Linked DNA regions of Homo sapiens: region 1 is linked to region 2. A link means that fine-mapping ties the variant in region 2 to the expression of a gene that starts in the linked region. Tissue or cell type: lung. Region 2 holds a variant in brackets; the other region holds the start of a gene. All regions are shown on one strand. Distances are from middle to middle.

What was found. PIP is the estimated chance that this variant, and not a neighbour inherited with it, causes the effect.
Region 1: PLPPR4 starts here. The variant in region 2 is fine-mapped to the expression of PLPPR4 in lung (TOPMed, PIP 0.98).

The regions. Positions count from the first base shown.
Region 1 is chr1:99,261,902-99,266,901 of GRCh38, reverse strand. PLPPR4 (phospholipid phosphatase related 4) reads right to left here and starts at 2,410. Exons shown (of 7, transcript NM_014839.5): 1 at 2,231-2,410. The coding sequence starts at 2,308.
Region 2 is chr1:99,176,165-99,187,866 of GRCh38, reverse strand. No RefSeq gene overlaps it. Among named protein-coding and RNA genes, the nearest start is that of PLPPR4, 82 kb to the left of the region's middle. RefSeq lists a silencer at 3,817-3,984. The variant G/A (reference allele first, on the strand shown) is at 6,778.

The DNA.
Region 1 (5,000 bases), 82 kb before region 2:
TTAGTGCATTCTCACCAGCTTCAAAATGAGTCATTTCAAAGGAGCGTGATAGTGCATGTGGTCAAACCCTTAAATAATTTTTATACTAATGCAGTCTCCCATTTTCTGGAGGCTCTTTAGTGGTTCATCATGCATTTAATTTTTAGGAAGATAATTTGCAATCCAATTGTGTGGCTCTGTCTTTGAAGTCTGTTAACCCCAAGATACAGTGTCATCAATGCTCATTTAAACTCCATGAATTGTGTTCAAGTAATTGTTCTACAGCTTGCCCTGCTAAGGAATTCATAGAGGGTATCTGAATAGGCCAAAGTAAAAGTAATGAATCTGGGCTATTTCCACTCATGGAAAAGAAGTAACAATTGTGAGATGTCTGTTCCTAAACACACAATTCAATTGCATTATGAGGCACTTGTACTTTTAAAATTCTTGCTTAAGGGACATGTACTCCGGTTAAAGATGCCTCAAAAGCGCCCACGTACATTCTGTAAAGGCACATCCTTAATTCTCTGGTTTGCCTCCTCTTTCATGAGGGCATTTTCCTTGAAGCCATATAGCTGCAACCCACATGTAGTCAGCTTCTAGCTGACCTCAGGTGTGTTCCTTCCTGGAGATGGAACTCAGCCATTAACTGATTTCTCCTAGACAAATGTCATTGATTCAGACACAAATGAAATCACTATAATACAAAACTACACGGATTAGCCATGCGACAAGTGGTCTGATGGATTGAACTTGAAGGCAGGTATCTCATCTTTCTATTCCTTCACCATTTTCATCATGGAATCTTCTGCTACCTACATTTTTCTTGAGAAAGCTCTTTATTATCTTTCAACAAAAATTACCTAAACCATGTTCCCAAAAATCTCTTGTGAAAAGAGAAAGGATAATAAATGGATTCATTATTTTAAATACATAGATTTTTTTTTCTTCTTTTCTATGGTTCATGAATGCAGGGGTCACCCATCATTTCTCTGAAAGTTATGCAAGTCACATACATCTTTCTTGAAACTGAAATTATTTAAAAAATCTATGACACTTCTACAAAACTTCCAAATATATTGTTACCTATAAGAACAGTCCGACAATGTCTCTTCTCCCAAGTTTCAAGGCAGTGACTATTCCTCAGGACAGATAAGCCTTACAATCATTGAATACAGAATCTACTGTTTGCACTTCGAAGGGCTAAACCTCCATATTTGGCTGAAAAGATGGCCAGAGAAGGATATTTATGATTCAGCAACAGTCTTATAATTCTCTATGCAACCCAGACTCTAACTAAACAGAATATAGTTTTGTGCCTAAAACCATCTGATTTCCCTAAATCTATGCAATACAACCCTTCAGTATCTGTAATTTAATAAACCTCTTGCTTAAAAATGTCTTCCTAATGCAATGGAGCACAGTACACGGAATCACTGTATCTGCCAATCTTTATAACACTCCTATGAATTGTTTCTCCCTCAAATACTGCATTTTGGTAAGTTAGAGGGTCATTACGGATACATCTGCATTTAATTGTTTATCTATAATACTGCTCAGCACAGTAAATACTCAGATACAAATCATGTAAAATCAGATGATGTCATAGATTTAAAATATTATATATAGTTATGTATACACACATATATAATATGTATTTTTTACTGTGGAAAGAGGCCAGTACATTGATGATTGATGTTTAGAGATGCAGATCCAATTTCAGAAGCGTATGTGAGCACCAAAATAATATAATAGGAGAAGGATTTGGGGGGGGGGGGCAGGAGCAATAAAAGCAATTAACAATATTTGTACTATGTAAACACCTTCAACCCTCATATGCCCTAGGCATAGCTGTGTGCACACGGAGTTCCCGACACGTACTCGGCAGGTTGAAGACACAAATCCCGAAATATGGGCATCATGGCCCCTCTGGGGCACTAGCGGACGTTGTGCACACAGGCACTACAGGAGGGCCAAGGAACTAAAACCACACTCACTCACACAGGTATCCGTTCCCTGCAGGCCACCCAGCAGCGACACCTCTAATGGTAATCACCCCGGGCTGACAGGTATTCACAGGCACATTCGGGGAGCTGCTGTGAAATCTAGGGGAAGAGGGGAGGGTCGGGCATTTGGGGACAGCCGCGCGCGCCCGGCAGGATCTCTGCGCCTCCAACACTGTCCAGGACCTGAATTCGCTCAGGAGATGCCCAGAGGATCTGCATTATGCCAAGGCACTGGGCCAACTCACCTCGACGAAATAAAAGCAGGGCAGGAGGGTGACGCTGTCCTTGATCACTTTGCCCTTTGGCCTCTCCTTCGCCGACATCCCTGCCGCCTGCCCGGGTCTGCGTCCTCCCCCGGGCGAGGTGTGCACAGCGCAGCTGAGGCGAGCTGCCTCCTCCAGCCCCAAGCGCCCGGCGCCGCTGATGTCACATTCCCCGCGGCCACCGCTGGAGCCAGCGCGCTGCATGCAGCGCCCCCGCCTTCTCCCCGCCCCTTTTTGCAGCAACCCAGCTATTCCCTGAGCGGGCCAGTCCTCTTCCTCCCCTAGTCTGGCTCCTGCTCCCCGTTTTTCTGGCGAGAGACGACGTCCAGCTCCCTCCTCCAAGCTGTTGCTGCAATGGCTTCCCCTCCCTGTCACCCTCCCTCAGCTCTCTACCGCCCTTGCGACGCTCCAAGGCTGTCGGAGCTTGACGTCAAGAATCCGAAAAGGAGGACGCACTCCTGGTTTCTGCAGTAGTTAGGCTGAGGAGCTAAGCCACCTAGTCTCCTCCTGGGGAGCCTCCTAGGTCACTCTAGGAATGCTATTAAAGAATGCTAAGGATCAGAAGCCCTGCTCCAGCGCGCTGACCCATAGCAAGAAAACCAACCCCTACCTCCACGAAATGAGATCTTGGATCCCATACTGAAAAGTAGGCTGAGGTAGGCATTAACTGACAGCTTGTTGCTACCCAGGAATGACAGCTCCTACGGGGGATTCTCTGCCTAGGAGACTCCTTATCTCCCTTCCATATCGAAGCACCCACTAACAAACACTACCGGTTGTGTGGGAATGATGTGGGTTCCTTGCATCCAGAGAGGCAGATGTGTGAATGCACAGGTAATGGGCATCCTCATTGAGCCCAGAGGCTACTGTATGTTCTAATCTCACTGTCACACCCCCAGAACAGTGTCAGTATTGCAATCATAACAGTAAAAAGAAGTATGTCTTCAGATATTAATAATCTAAAGTCCTTCATCTTGTTGGCAGTATACATGGCTAGTCTCAATTTTGTGATTACTTTGGCAACCAGAAGTATCAAGTTGATATAGAAGAGAGAAAGACCCAGCAAACACGAGACATGATATTATACTAATAAAGATGACCTAATTTTGTGATCACATGTCCCAGGCCATTTCCAATATCTCCAAGTCTCCATTTCAAGCATGTGATGGCCAATTCCCAACTCATTTATCCATTTCCCTTTTTTAGTTGCTCCTCCAATAGGTCTTTGGCAGTATGGGACCATCCTATCTAATAATATACTCATTTCACTGCCAACACCACCTCTTGCCCCCACTTTCTTCTGCCAGGCTTGGGTTCCAAAGTCTAGCAATATAATTGCTTGTTTCCGCCTCCCAATTTGCCATACTCACCTGATAATATCCCGGCTTAGTTGAACCCAATTCTCTGCCCTTACCAGAGCAACTGAAAGTGGCTGGAGAAAAACACACAACCGCATGATGCTGTCTCACATCCAACTCATGACCACAAACTCCAAGTAGGTCCTGGAGTTGCCCCCACGATTCTATAATTTTTTCTGTCCAGCCATTTTCCCATTCACAACTTCTCACTTCTCAAATCTCCTCATTCTCAGTTCATGACATTAACTCTTATTTCACTTAGAAAATAGAAGTAATCAGAAGAGAACTACATCTTCTTCCTAAACTCAGTGCTTGCCCTCACCCCCCACCACACACAGCGACCGCCATCTCTTGCCTAGACTGGAATAACCTAACGGCCTTCTAACTGTTCTACCAGCTTTTGCATTTGCCATTCCCACAACCTACAAACCATTCCCTACGCAGCAGCCAGAAAGGTCCTTTGGAAAGTAAACCCAATTGTTTTATTCCCCTACCCAAACCCTCCAAGAGCTCTCTTCCACTTCAATGGAAAGTCCAAACTTCCCGTCTCTTCCTTAAAGCCCTGCCTGGCCACCTTGCCTGGTTCTAGGACCTCATTCACATCACTTTGCACCTCAATGGTCTGGCCGTTCCAGCCTAGCCTTTCACTGCCTCAGGAGCTTTGTACTTACTGTTCCTTTGTCCAAGAACTCTGTTCCGCCAAAATTGCATGGCTTAACCCCTCATTTAATTCATATCTCTGCACAAATTTTAACTCCTCAGGGAAGTTGTGTTTGATGCACCGAGTAGATTCATAATCTCAGACCTCTGTTACTCTTTATTCTTTTATACTATTTTATTTTCCTTCATAGAATTTGTCACCATTTGATAGTATATCAAGTATTTCTGTGTCCTTTTTTATCTTGTCTGCCTCACCCACTAGTGAACTCTGTAAAGTCAAGCACATTTTCATTATTATGTTTTCTGGTAACTACAAGTGTGCCTGGCAAAGAGTAGGTTGTCAGTACATAGTGAAGAAATAAATGGAACAATAAAATTAAGTGATGCTTATATAACCGTATAGCATAGTTTTTCACATAGTATATGTTCATTAAGTGCTTGTTGATTCTGTTTAACTATTACATTAATCAGTAGTTATACTTTTCATTACTACCAATGTTACTTTGTCTTGTGGAGGGGGTGGGTACTGGAGCCCTTTCTTTTTTCAACCTTCTTGGTACCTCAAGAAAATTTACAATTTTTGGTGAGGTAAAAAATAAGCTAGAACATATTAAACTTAAGAGAGATGTTATCATCCTGGAAACTCAGTGTTTTTATTTGAGAAGAGGTGAAATATAAGACTAAACCTATACCCACCTAATTTCAATAGCAAAAAAACCTGAAGGTATGTGATA
Region 2 (11,702 bases):
TGTGATGTTCCTCTTTCTGTGTCCACGTGTTCTCATTGTTCAACTCCCACTTATGAATGAGAACATGTGGTGTCTGGTTTTCTGTTCTTGTGTTAGTTTGCTGAGAATGACGATTTTCAGCTACACACATGTCCCTGAAAAGGACATAAACTCATCCTTTTTATGGCTGCATAGTATTCCATGGTGTATATGTGCCACATTTTCTTTATCCAGTCTACAATTGATGGGCATTTGGGTTGGTTCCAAGTCTTTGCTATTGTGAACAGTGCCACAATAAACATACGTGTGCATGTATTTATAGTAGAATGATTTATAATCCTTTGAGTATATACCCAGTAATGAGATTGCTGGGTCAAATGGTATTTCTGGTTCTAGATCCTTGAGAAATCACCACACTGTCTTCCACAATGGTTGAACTCATTTACACTCCCACCAACAGCGTAAAAGCATTCCTATTTCTCCACATCCTCTCCAGCATCTGTTGTTTCCTGACTTTTTAATGATCGCCATTCTAACTGGCAGATTGATCATTAAGAAGCATAATTTGCAGGTGAGAATTTCTGGCAAGATGGTTTTTTGGTCTTTTGTTTTGTTTTGGAAGCTGGTGGAAGAGCGACCTGTGTGCCCACGAATGGGTATTATAAGCAATCGGCTATTTGACAAGGCTTTAATATAGACATCAAGAAGCACACCCACCTAAAATGGCCGATAAACAATTGGAAATCATTTGGTTGCATTATATACTCACCTCAGGAAAAGATAACTGTGTCTTACTTTAATGGGGGACCAAGTAGGATTCATATGTTTTTAGAAAAAAATATGTAAATAAGTATATACACCTACTATGTGCCCACAGAAATTAAAACTCAAAAAAGAAAAAATCATAAGTAAGTAGGTGCAAAAGTGGACAACTTTTGGACTTAGACTTGAAATCAGAAGATCAGGCTTGAATTCCAGATCTAACTCATAATGGGCATGAAATTTTCAATAATATAATTTACGACTAATTTTCTTATATATTTAAATATCTTGTAAAGATAAAAATGAGGCAAGTAAGATGTTTTTGAACTGGAAAGCATTCAGACAAAGCATATTGTTGTATGTTATTATAATAATATATAGTTGTGTGTGTGTGTGCGGGGAGATATTGTAGAGACTTCCACTCAGAGCAAGTCTTATATATGTTTTATACACTCCTACACACACCATTTCTTAAACCCTTCTGCATTGAAAAGCCTTCTTCTTAGGGACATTATCTCCTTCCTCTCCCAATGTGATTTCAGGGAAAGTTGGTATATTACCTGTCCCTGCCTCCTAACAACAAGTGATTGGTCCAGACCTTGGAAACTGACCCAAGTCTGGACAAACAGAATATTCCTTAAAAATTTATGAACTAGATTAGAAAATAGACATAGTTCTTCTTTGACTGTAGAAATATGAAAATGTATAATATAATAGCTACATTTCTCATCCAGTAGAAGTAGCCCATCCACAGTGAGAGAATAAACCAGGTAGGAAAAGAGAAGCTGGATTACAGAAAAAGCAAGTGAAAGAGAAGAGAGCATAAGAGAATGTGAGGACATGAGAGAGTGATCTGGCAGTCTTCACTCTGTCATTTTAGTTGTTTCTAAGCTGGGTTGCATCTCTGCTCTGTCCACTCTTCATAGTTCAACCTGAGATAGCCCAGTATCCTTGTGATGAATTTCTCCCTTACTTTAAGCTAGTTTGGTTTTGACCATTTGCAAGCTAAGGGGTTGACACAGGCTGAGTTGCTTAGGAAGCAAACTCTGAGATGATGATTGGCATGCAGAACATTTGCTCAGGTGTGTTGTTGGGATCAACTTCTGTGAAGGGAAGGGAAGACAGCAGGATTGGATAGAAGGAGAAGTTGAGATGTAATGCAATCTCAATGAAGACCTCAGCTGACCTGAAAGACAGCCTGGAAGCTGGAATGGCCTTAGAGGTCTGTTCTAATTTGGGGCAGGAGATGTTTTCCCCTGACATTCAGCAGTCATTAAATGTAAGCCATGCTAGAAAGAGTGTGTAACTTATGGTGAGACATTTTTCTGCAACAAAGGCAATCACTGAAGTGGGGTGGCAGTTGAGGGTCATTCCCTGGCCATACTACCAGCAGCTGGGGGAGTAAACTCTCCCTTCCTGAACTGGGGATCTGGGTGGCCCATTACAGAATCCCCATAGTCCAACTCAAATCCTTTCTATCTGCATGGGTTTCAGGTCTACAGAAAAAAACACAAGTTCACCTGCAGGACTTGTGAATGTATCTTTAAAGTTAACTTAAAGTACTCCAAAAGTAGTTACTAAAATTGAATGCTTCTTGAATTCTATGTTATTTCATCATCATATAAGCTGTTTCATTTTCTTTATCGAATTTCAAAGCAGAGTTTTCAAGTCTTCAAGTCTTGTTCTGGATCAGAATACTCTGTGGAGCTTGTTAAAAATACAGACATATGGGCTGCACTTTGGAGTGACTGAAACAGAAGTTCCTGAGTAGAGCCTGGGAAATCATATTTTTAAAAGCATATAAATGGCACAGGCCTTTTGAAAGGCAAGATCAACTCCGAGATATTAGTCGTAAGCTGCAGCTTCCATTGGTTTATTATTCTTTAAACTACTTAAAAAGAAACAAGCTATTCAAATGTACAGCTTATTACAATGCAATTAGTGACTAAAATAGGCACCAAATTCAATGTCAACAAGTAACCTATGATTCACTGGCCCTTGCACTGACATGATAAACTAGGACCCTGTGTCTCCCAAGCTCTCAGAATAATCCTAGGAGCAATTGTGCTTTTGGCCATGTTTTTCTCCTTCCTGCCTTCTGTTTTCTTGGCCTTTCCACTGGGCAGTTGCTTTAGTTGGCAGCTGTCACATATTGCTTTCACTTCCATGAGATGTCATTTACAATAGGCATGATAACCATTTCTACTCTTGAGGACAACAGTCTTCTCCAAACTTTGCCACCGCAAAGGGGCACCACTACTGCTTGCTTTCCTGGGAATCAGCAGGGCCATCTCAGCTAAATACTATTGCCTATTCCACTGGGTGCTGCTGGTGATGCACTGGGCAAATGCAGGGCAAATAGATTCTGGCACTCTACAATAAATTGGGGGGAAAAGGTACTCTCATTTTTTTTTCCATTAAAGATAAAATCAGGTATATTTGAGTGAAATATATCTTTTACTTTTGACTTTCTGCCTTCTCCAGAATTCAAACAAGGACAGTATCAGAAACAATTCTGAGTGACAGTATGTTGTACTCAAAAATCTTCCCCTACTCAAATTCAGAAATCTGTTACTAGATGTGTGTGTCTACCTGTCCTGTGTTTTAGAATTAGCTTCTCTTGGAAGTTCCTTAGTCCTTTAAATAGTTAGGTTTCCAAAGGTCTGTTTGATAAGTTGACCAAATATACATGTTGATATGGTTTGGCTGTGTCCCCACCCAAATCTCATCTTAAATTGTAGCTCCCATAATTTCCATGTGCCATGGGAGGGACCCAGTGGGAGATAATGGAATCATGGGGACAGGTTTTTCCCATGCTGTTCTCATGATAGTGAATAAATCTCATGAGATCTGATAGTTTTATAAAGGGGAGTTCCCCTGCACATGCTCTCTTGCTTATCACCATGTAAGATGTGACTTTGCTCATTCTCCTTTGCCATAATTGTGAGGCCTCCCCAACCATGTGGAACTGTGAATCAATTAAACCTCTTTCCTTTATAAATTTCTCATCCAAAATATATATAAAACTCAGGCCAGATGCAGTGGCTCATGCCTGTAATCCTAGCCCTTTGGGAGGTTGAGGTGGGCAGATCACTTGAGGTCAGGAGTTCAAAACCAGCCGGGCCAACATGGAGAAACCCCATGTCTACTAAAAATATAAAACAATTAGCCAGGTATGGTGGTGGGCATCTGTAATCTCAGCTACTTGGGAGATGAGGCAGGAGAATCGCTTGAACCTGGGCGGCGGAGGTTGCAGTGAGCTGAGATTGTGCCGCTGCACTCCAGCCTGGGCAACAGAGTGAAACTCCATCAAAAACAAAACAAAACAAAACCAAAAAACCCAAAAAACTCAATATGCAACAGTAAGGAAACATAGAAATCAATTTTTAAAATGGGCAAAAGCTTGGACACTTACCAAGAAGGTTATAAGGATGGCAAAGCAGCATATTAAAAATGTTCAACATCATTAGCCATAAGTGAAATGCAAAGTTAAGCATTAATGAAATACCACTGCACACTTATTAGAATGCAGAAAATAAAAAATACTGACAACACCAAGTGCTGACGAGGATGTAGAGCAACTAAAACTCTCATACATTGCTGGTGGTAGTGAAAAATGGTACAGCTATTACATAAAATGGTTTGACAGTTTCTCATCAAGTTAAACATGTAGTTATGACTCAGCAACTCTGATTTTTTGGGAAAAGAAAGCTTTCGTTCAAACAAAAACCTCCACGCAGATGTTAATATAGTAGCTCTCTTCATAATATATTCCCAAAACTGGAGACAGTGCAAAAGTCCTTCAGTGAGTAATGGAGGAAGAAACTATGATACCTCAGTACAATGAAACACTACTCAGCAATAAAAAAGAACAAACTATTGATTCAGATCAGAATTTGAATTAATTTCAAGTGCATTATAATGGGAAAAAGAAGTTAGTCTCAAAAGGTTGCATATCACATGATTCCATTTATATGAAATTCCCAGAAAGATAAAAGAAATGGACAGGAGATCAGTGGTTGCCAAAGATTAGGGGAATGGAGTGCTGTGATTATAAAGAAATGACACCAGGGAGTCTGAGGTGATAGAAGGAACTCTTTTCATATCCTGATAATGGTGGTAGTTATTTGAATCTATAAAAGTATCAAAATTCAAAGACCTGTACAAGAAAGTCTGTGACTATATGATAATTTAAAAAGCAAAATTAACATTTTTTAAATCCCATGCTTACAACTTACAAAGATCTGGATGAGTTTGTCAGGTTCTAGCTATAAGGAGCTTATACAATAACATTAGAGGTATTTTCTCTTGCTCGACCTTACAGTTAAAAATCTAACCAGGCCTCTATGTCTCCATGTGTTAAATCTATATGTTAAACATTGTTTGTGTAAGCTATATTTTCTTCCCTTTACCTGTGTTGGCTTCATTTTGAAAAGCTCTCCCTATAAGATGACAATAACTTCAGGTTTATGTTTGCCCTACAAGCAAAAAGAAATTATCTCTGGCCAGGTGTGGTGGCTCATGCCTGTAATCCCAGCACTTTGGGAGGCTGAGGCGGGTGGATCACCTGAGGTCAGGTGTTTGAGACCAACCTGGCCAACATGGTGAAACCTCGTCTCTCCTAAAAATAAAAAATAAAAAATAAATAAAAAATCAGCCGGGCGTGGTGGCACGCTTCTGTAGTCCCAGCTACTCGGGAGGCTGGGCTGAGGCAGGAGAATCACTTGAACCCGGGAGGCAGAGGTTGCAGTGAGCCGAGATTGCACCATTGCACTCCAGGCCAGGCAATAGAGCAAGATTCAGTAAAAAAAAAAAAAAAAAAAAAAAAAAAAAAAAAGAAAGAAAGAAAGAAAAGAAAAGAAAAAGAAAAAAAGAAATTATGTCTTTCTCAATAGCTTCAGAGTTCTCTGGGAGGAAACAATTTTCTTTGGCAAAGCTATGACCCATGCCCATTCCTCAATGTAACATTTGGCAAGGAGATAGAGCTTTCTCTTTGTCTAGGCATCCGTTTTATGTCCACTGTTGAGCCAGCCCCATTCATTTCCAGGCAAGAATGAAGTAAATGAGGTTGACCAAAGGCATGCTGGACAGACATAAAACATATGTCATCTCTCTTGGACTTAGTGCTGGGGAAGACACTTAACTTTTCTTTGTCTCAATTTGACCACGCAAAAAGGTAGTAGTAATCATACTTTCTTCAAGCAATGACAACATCTATCCACAAGTAAGCTGGATTGCAAACTGGCTGCTTTATTTCTCCCGGTCATCATCATAGGGTGTTAGAGATGGTTAAAATGAATGAAGCAACAGTGCCATAGTATCTACATTTCATGCCTATAAAAATCACAAGATGCTAGTAATGAAAGGGTTCATGAAGAGTCACCTGCCTCAGTCGTCTGATTTCAGGAAAAGTTATACTTGCACATTTCTAGGAAGAAGAAAAAAAATACATGTTTATGATTTTCATGGCATAGTATTCTATGATAACTCTTGGTAATGTTTTACCACCTTGATTCCATTCTTAGGAATCTCAGAAATGTCTTAAACTCAACTAGTCTTTCATGTTATTGCTTATATGAAATAACATGAAAACTCACATCCCATTTTTATATCTTTATTAATTTTTTAAAAAGGAAAAATATAGCTGGTCACTCTATTTTTAAATATCTTCATATATGGTACTTGAAAATGTTATTGTCATAAATTCCTCCACCAATCATTTGTTCTCCATACGCTAAACTCTTGATCCACTAAATTTTCTTTACAAGTTGCATTTTTTTAACACTTTGAATATATATATTTTAACTCTTCAAAATTTCTGAACAATCTCTTTCAGGGCAGCAGAAATCTGAGCTCTACCCATTTTTTCAGTAACAACTAAAAACTCCAGAAATGTCTTCAGAAGACGAAAGGAAGCATGTATCTGGAGAAAAGGTTATTCCAGGATTCTGAGGGAGTCCCAACACTTTCCAGACCATCTGGCTGAAATCTAATTGCTAATGAAATGAACAGATTTTTTTTTTATCCACAAGTATA[G/A]CCTGAAGGGGAATTAAGCCAGGATTTTCGAGAATGCCTGGCACAAAAGAGCTGTTGTCAAAGAAAGCTAAAAAGGATAGTGATAATGATAGTACATTAAACCATACAAAATATATATTTTCATTTGCTTTTGGAGAAGAGAGTTAGGGCTGCTTGTATAATGAATTATTATTACCCACTAAGTCAGCTGCACTAATTAGAATCAATTTAATTTCTCAAATCTATTATAAAAAATGAATACTAGCCAGGACTCAGATTTTTTTTTTCCTGAAAAAAACTGATACTGTAGCTTTAATTGTGCATGGAACTGAAAAGGTTGTCATGGAGATGGGAATCTGTGATAGGCCTGCTCCACTTCGCTGGCCTTGTTCTGAGCCTGAAGTGGAAGGTTCTATTGTTAGAGTAGGTTTTCAATTTCTTGCAATAAAACCTGTGTTTAGATTTTTTTCAGTGCAGTTTTGTTCCTGCTGCTATCTTTTGTTTCATGAAAACAGTGAGAGTGCTTATAATGACAATAATGAGACCATTTTAGAATATTCTATTTGTGATTGTTGGGGAGCACACAAAATGGTGTCCAACAAACTCTGATAGTCACTGCAGGCTCCTGCAATAGTTTGGAAACGTTTGCCACCTAGTGGCGGCAATTGAGAAATGCTGAGAGATAGTAAACATTGTTACCTTTTGGCTAGTAGGAAGCAGAAAGAAGAGTATAACTACCTCTATAAAGAGATTCTTCATTTCTTTTTTTCCTTAAGATATAGAACAATTCCGATTTCCCATCCTTATTTCGTTATTTAAAAAATAATATTTTAATGGTATTTGCTTATTTCATTTAAATATTGAAATTACGGACATAACATTGTTTATATCTTTCTATTATATTTTAACAATTATAAAATCTAAAGTAATATCCTGGCTTTTATTTCTGACTTTTTTGACTTCTCTTTTTTTCTTGACCTTGGGGTTTATAAATTGTGTTTTATTTTTGAAGGACCAACTTTTGGTCTTCTTTATTAATTTTATGTTTGTTTTCTCTTCATTGGGCTTCTGCCTGTGTCATCTTTTTCTTCAACTTTCGTTGGATTAATTTGCTTTTCTCATTGCTTCTTCAGATAGATATGTAGAGTGTTGATATTCAATATTCTTTTCTAACATATGCACATAAGCCTGCACATTTTACCTAAGCATAACTTTAGTTATGTATTTTGATATGTCAACCATGTTATCATTTATTTCCAAACATTTATTTCCAAACATTTTCTAATTTTCATTGTGATTACTTGTTTTCGCAACCGTGTTTTAACACCTATATACATGATAGCAATTATTAAGGTTTTTTTCTGTTTATCTTTTTGTTACTGCTTTCTAGTTTAATTCTACTTTCTGCAGAGAATAGAACCTCCTCTGAGATTTAAAATAAACAGATCCATCAAACAAATTATTATTTAATAGACTTCTGGCCACTATTTACACCTGGTGCTTCTCTTCATGCTGTTGCTTGGAATACCTTTAAGGATCAGCTAACATGTCAATTACCCAATAAAATATTGGCCAATTCCTTCTTTTGATATTTCCTTAATCACAATTAATTTCTCCTTCTATTGTGCTCCCACAGCCTTTTGTTCTTACTGCTATTACAATACCGCTTCCATTGCATTATATCTAGAGGTAAGCGTGTGTGTGCGTTTAGCCATCTTTTGCCAGATTAAGAATTTCCTTGAGAGAAAAATGCTTTATTACTTTTTTATTCCTCTGTACCTACATTACTAGCAGGGGTGTGGTAGGCTTCCCATAAATATTTACAAAATTAATGAATTGTCTGCCTTTTACTTTTCAGCCCCTCCTGAACCATTCTGCTTCCCGTTACCTTTATTCTTTTTATTCCTCCTCATTAGGATGGTGTCCCCTGCTACAGGGCCTTTGCAAATGGTTTCGTCTGCCTGGAATAACATTCTTTCCTTCCCTTTTTCACCTGGTTAACACGGACTCATCCTCTGGTTCTCAGTTCAGATATCTCCCTTTGAAGGAAGTTTTAACCCAGTCCCTGACCAGGAAATTCTCCTTATTATACACTTTCATTGTATAATATTGTTATTCTTAGTGTTCATAACATTTTTAAATTTTTCCACAAAAATAATTATAAAAGAGAAGTTATAAAATCAATCTGAAAAAAATTTAACCTTATTTAAAAAAAAACACAGACCAAAACTATTTGAAGGGAAAAATCCTCATTTGAATACTTGAGTTATTGCAAAAATAATCTCCCCTTAGCCTATATATACATTGAAAACACTCCGTTATGTCTCTTGGTGGAATTTTCACAGTCTGTCTTCAGTCAGTAAATGCACAAACAACCCTGAGCACATGTGTGGGTCATTATAGTGAAGAAAACACAGGCTTCAGATTCAGATCTGGTTTCCAATAGTATGGCTATTTCAAACCGTGAGATCTTGATCTTAGAATTTCGATTTCTTCATCTGTTAAATGGGTTTAACAAAAATCGTTTTATAGGACAGTTGGAAATATTAGCACACCCTTATTTTTTTTAAATCATCCTTGTTAATTCTTGCTAACCAAAATGTGCTAGGAAAGCAAAAATAAATAAGATATCGTCCTGGAACTCAAGTAGACTCGTGACGGAGTTCAATACATAAATCAATGATTATTACGATGAGAGATAACCCTGAGAGGTATGGATAATCCAGGACCGTGGACAGGTGGGCAGTGTGGTTAAGCAGGGATGGGTCCCCCAGTGCTGTCAGTGGGGGTAGGAATAAGCAGATGGTGTTGCCAATCTTCTCTTATATTAGAGGCATATTGGCTAATACATGTTCTAGCACACTGGTGGGGCAAAACCTTGTATCTTTCCAGACACTGGGCGCACGATTTAGGGCATATCTTTTAATCTCTATGTGCCTCAGTTTTGTCCTCTGTGATGATAGTAGTAGCTAAAACTTACAAAGCACTTACTAGGTGCCCGACACTCTTCTAATTGCTTTATGTATCTTAATTCCCTTAATCCTTACAACAACCGCATTTTACAGAAAAGGAACCAAGGACTGATAAAGTTAAATACCAAGTATCTTGCCCAAAGTCAAAGAAATAATTCAAATGGCAGAGCTGGGATTCAAACTCAGGCAATCTTATCTCCAAAGTTTCATGCTGAACCGTAACTGACTCTCTATAGTGCAATGAATAATAATAATGGCTACATATCCAGCACTAACCACATGGCCTGCACACAGGAAGCATTCCATCGATTTTGGCTTTGATTACTATTAGTTAACTCTTTAATTTAAAGTATTTTTTAAAAATTTAATTATCCAGGAAATATTTCAAAATCTTGTTTCTCTGGTTTTTACCAATAGATGTAAGCAGATTACTAATCATGGGCAATATTTTTGACTTTCAAGAGCCCTCTTGTGGAAAAGTATAATAATCCAGGACAGCATTTTTATTTATCTAAGGATTGTCATATATGTGAAAAGAAATCCTAAATGTAAAGAAAATTCATTATTTTTTCAATCTGGCATCACACTTGGTTTCACTGAATGTAGGAAATATATTATTGATGACTCACATTATGAAATTAAGTAGGTAAAACATTGCAGTGCTGTAAAAAATTAAAAAGCAATTCCACAGAAAAATTGAAATCCATTTTGTAAGTAACCGCAGAGCAAACTGCATGGCTTAACAAATAGTTCCTATTAACTTTTAAAATTGTCAGAAAAATTCTAAGTTAAAACATTACAGGTAAAAATCTACTTATCTAAAGAAAATAATTACAACATTAGCATTTAGTATGAAGCGATAGTATTCTTTTCTTTTGTGTCATTTATTCATTTTAAAACAAGTTTGACTAAGGAATTAAACTTGAATAAGTAATAACCCTGAATATGTTTAAATATGCTATAGTGTTTAAAAGGTTCTTAGAGCAATTGAAGATAAGAACTGATTAAATATTAGTGTCTAGATGAATCATTTATTAGATGACTCTATTGTGAGAATTAATGCATGCCTTTTACCCAGGAGAAAATATTCCCCTGGCAATGAGTATTTATTTGTCTCTAATGTTCCCTGGTTTGTTATTGCAGAAATGTGTATCACAGTGACTTTATCTCTACTTTCATTTATAAAATGATGCCGCTATCTGCTCTGAAAGCAGGGAGACAGCTGCACTTTCTAACTCATGTTTCTGAATCATAATGAGTGGTCCTAGCCATGTGCTTTTTTCTTGTGTTTTTTTTTCTTCTCATCTCCACTCTAAAAATAGAGATGATATGAAAAACCTGCAGTTCTTTCCAAATGAAATTTTATGTGGTCAAAGGATCTTTTAAATACAAGCTTACTATTTAAGTAATTTTCAAACCTCATCAATTTAATTTATTAGGAAGAGCTCAATGTTAACTTCTAATTTTCTTCCAACAAAGATATTTACTGAGCATCTATACTGTTATTCAGGTAATGTACTAATGTTTTATGGCCATTATCTCTTATTATCTTTACAATAAAAAGACACCATCAATCAGGGTAGTTAAGTTTCTCAAGTTCCTAGAAAAAGTAAATGCAAAGCTGAGACTGGAACCCACACCTGTCTGACTTAGTGGTTTCCCAGCTATTTGTCAATGGCTTCCTTAATGCCTTAGAGACCAGGAAGCATCTCGGGTGCTTCCAAGTTTTGGGGAAAGATGTGAGAAGTGTCTGAGCAGGTATAACTTGGGTTTTCAGCATGTTGCAGAGAAATTTTTTAATGTTTCACATTTTGAGGTTCTCTGAAATATTTCATTTGCAGAAGAGTAAAAGAGTTCTGCAACTAAAAACAAGATGAATACCACTCTAACTACATATACTTCTCTCTTAATTTCTATTTCTCTGAATAGGGAGGGTAGAAGTTCCCTTCAGTGACTTTATTTCCTATCACCACC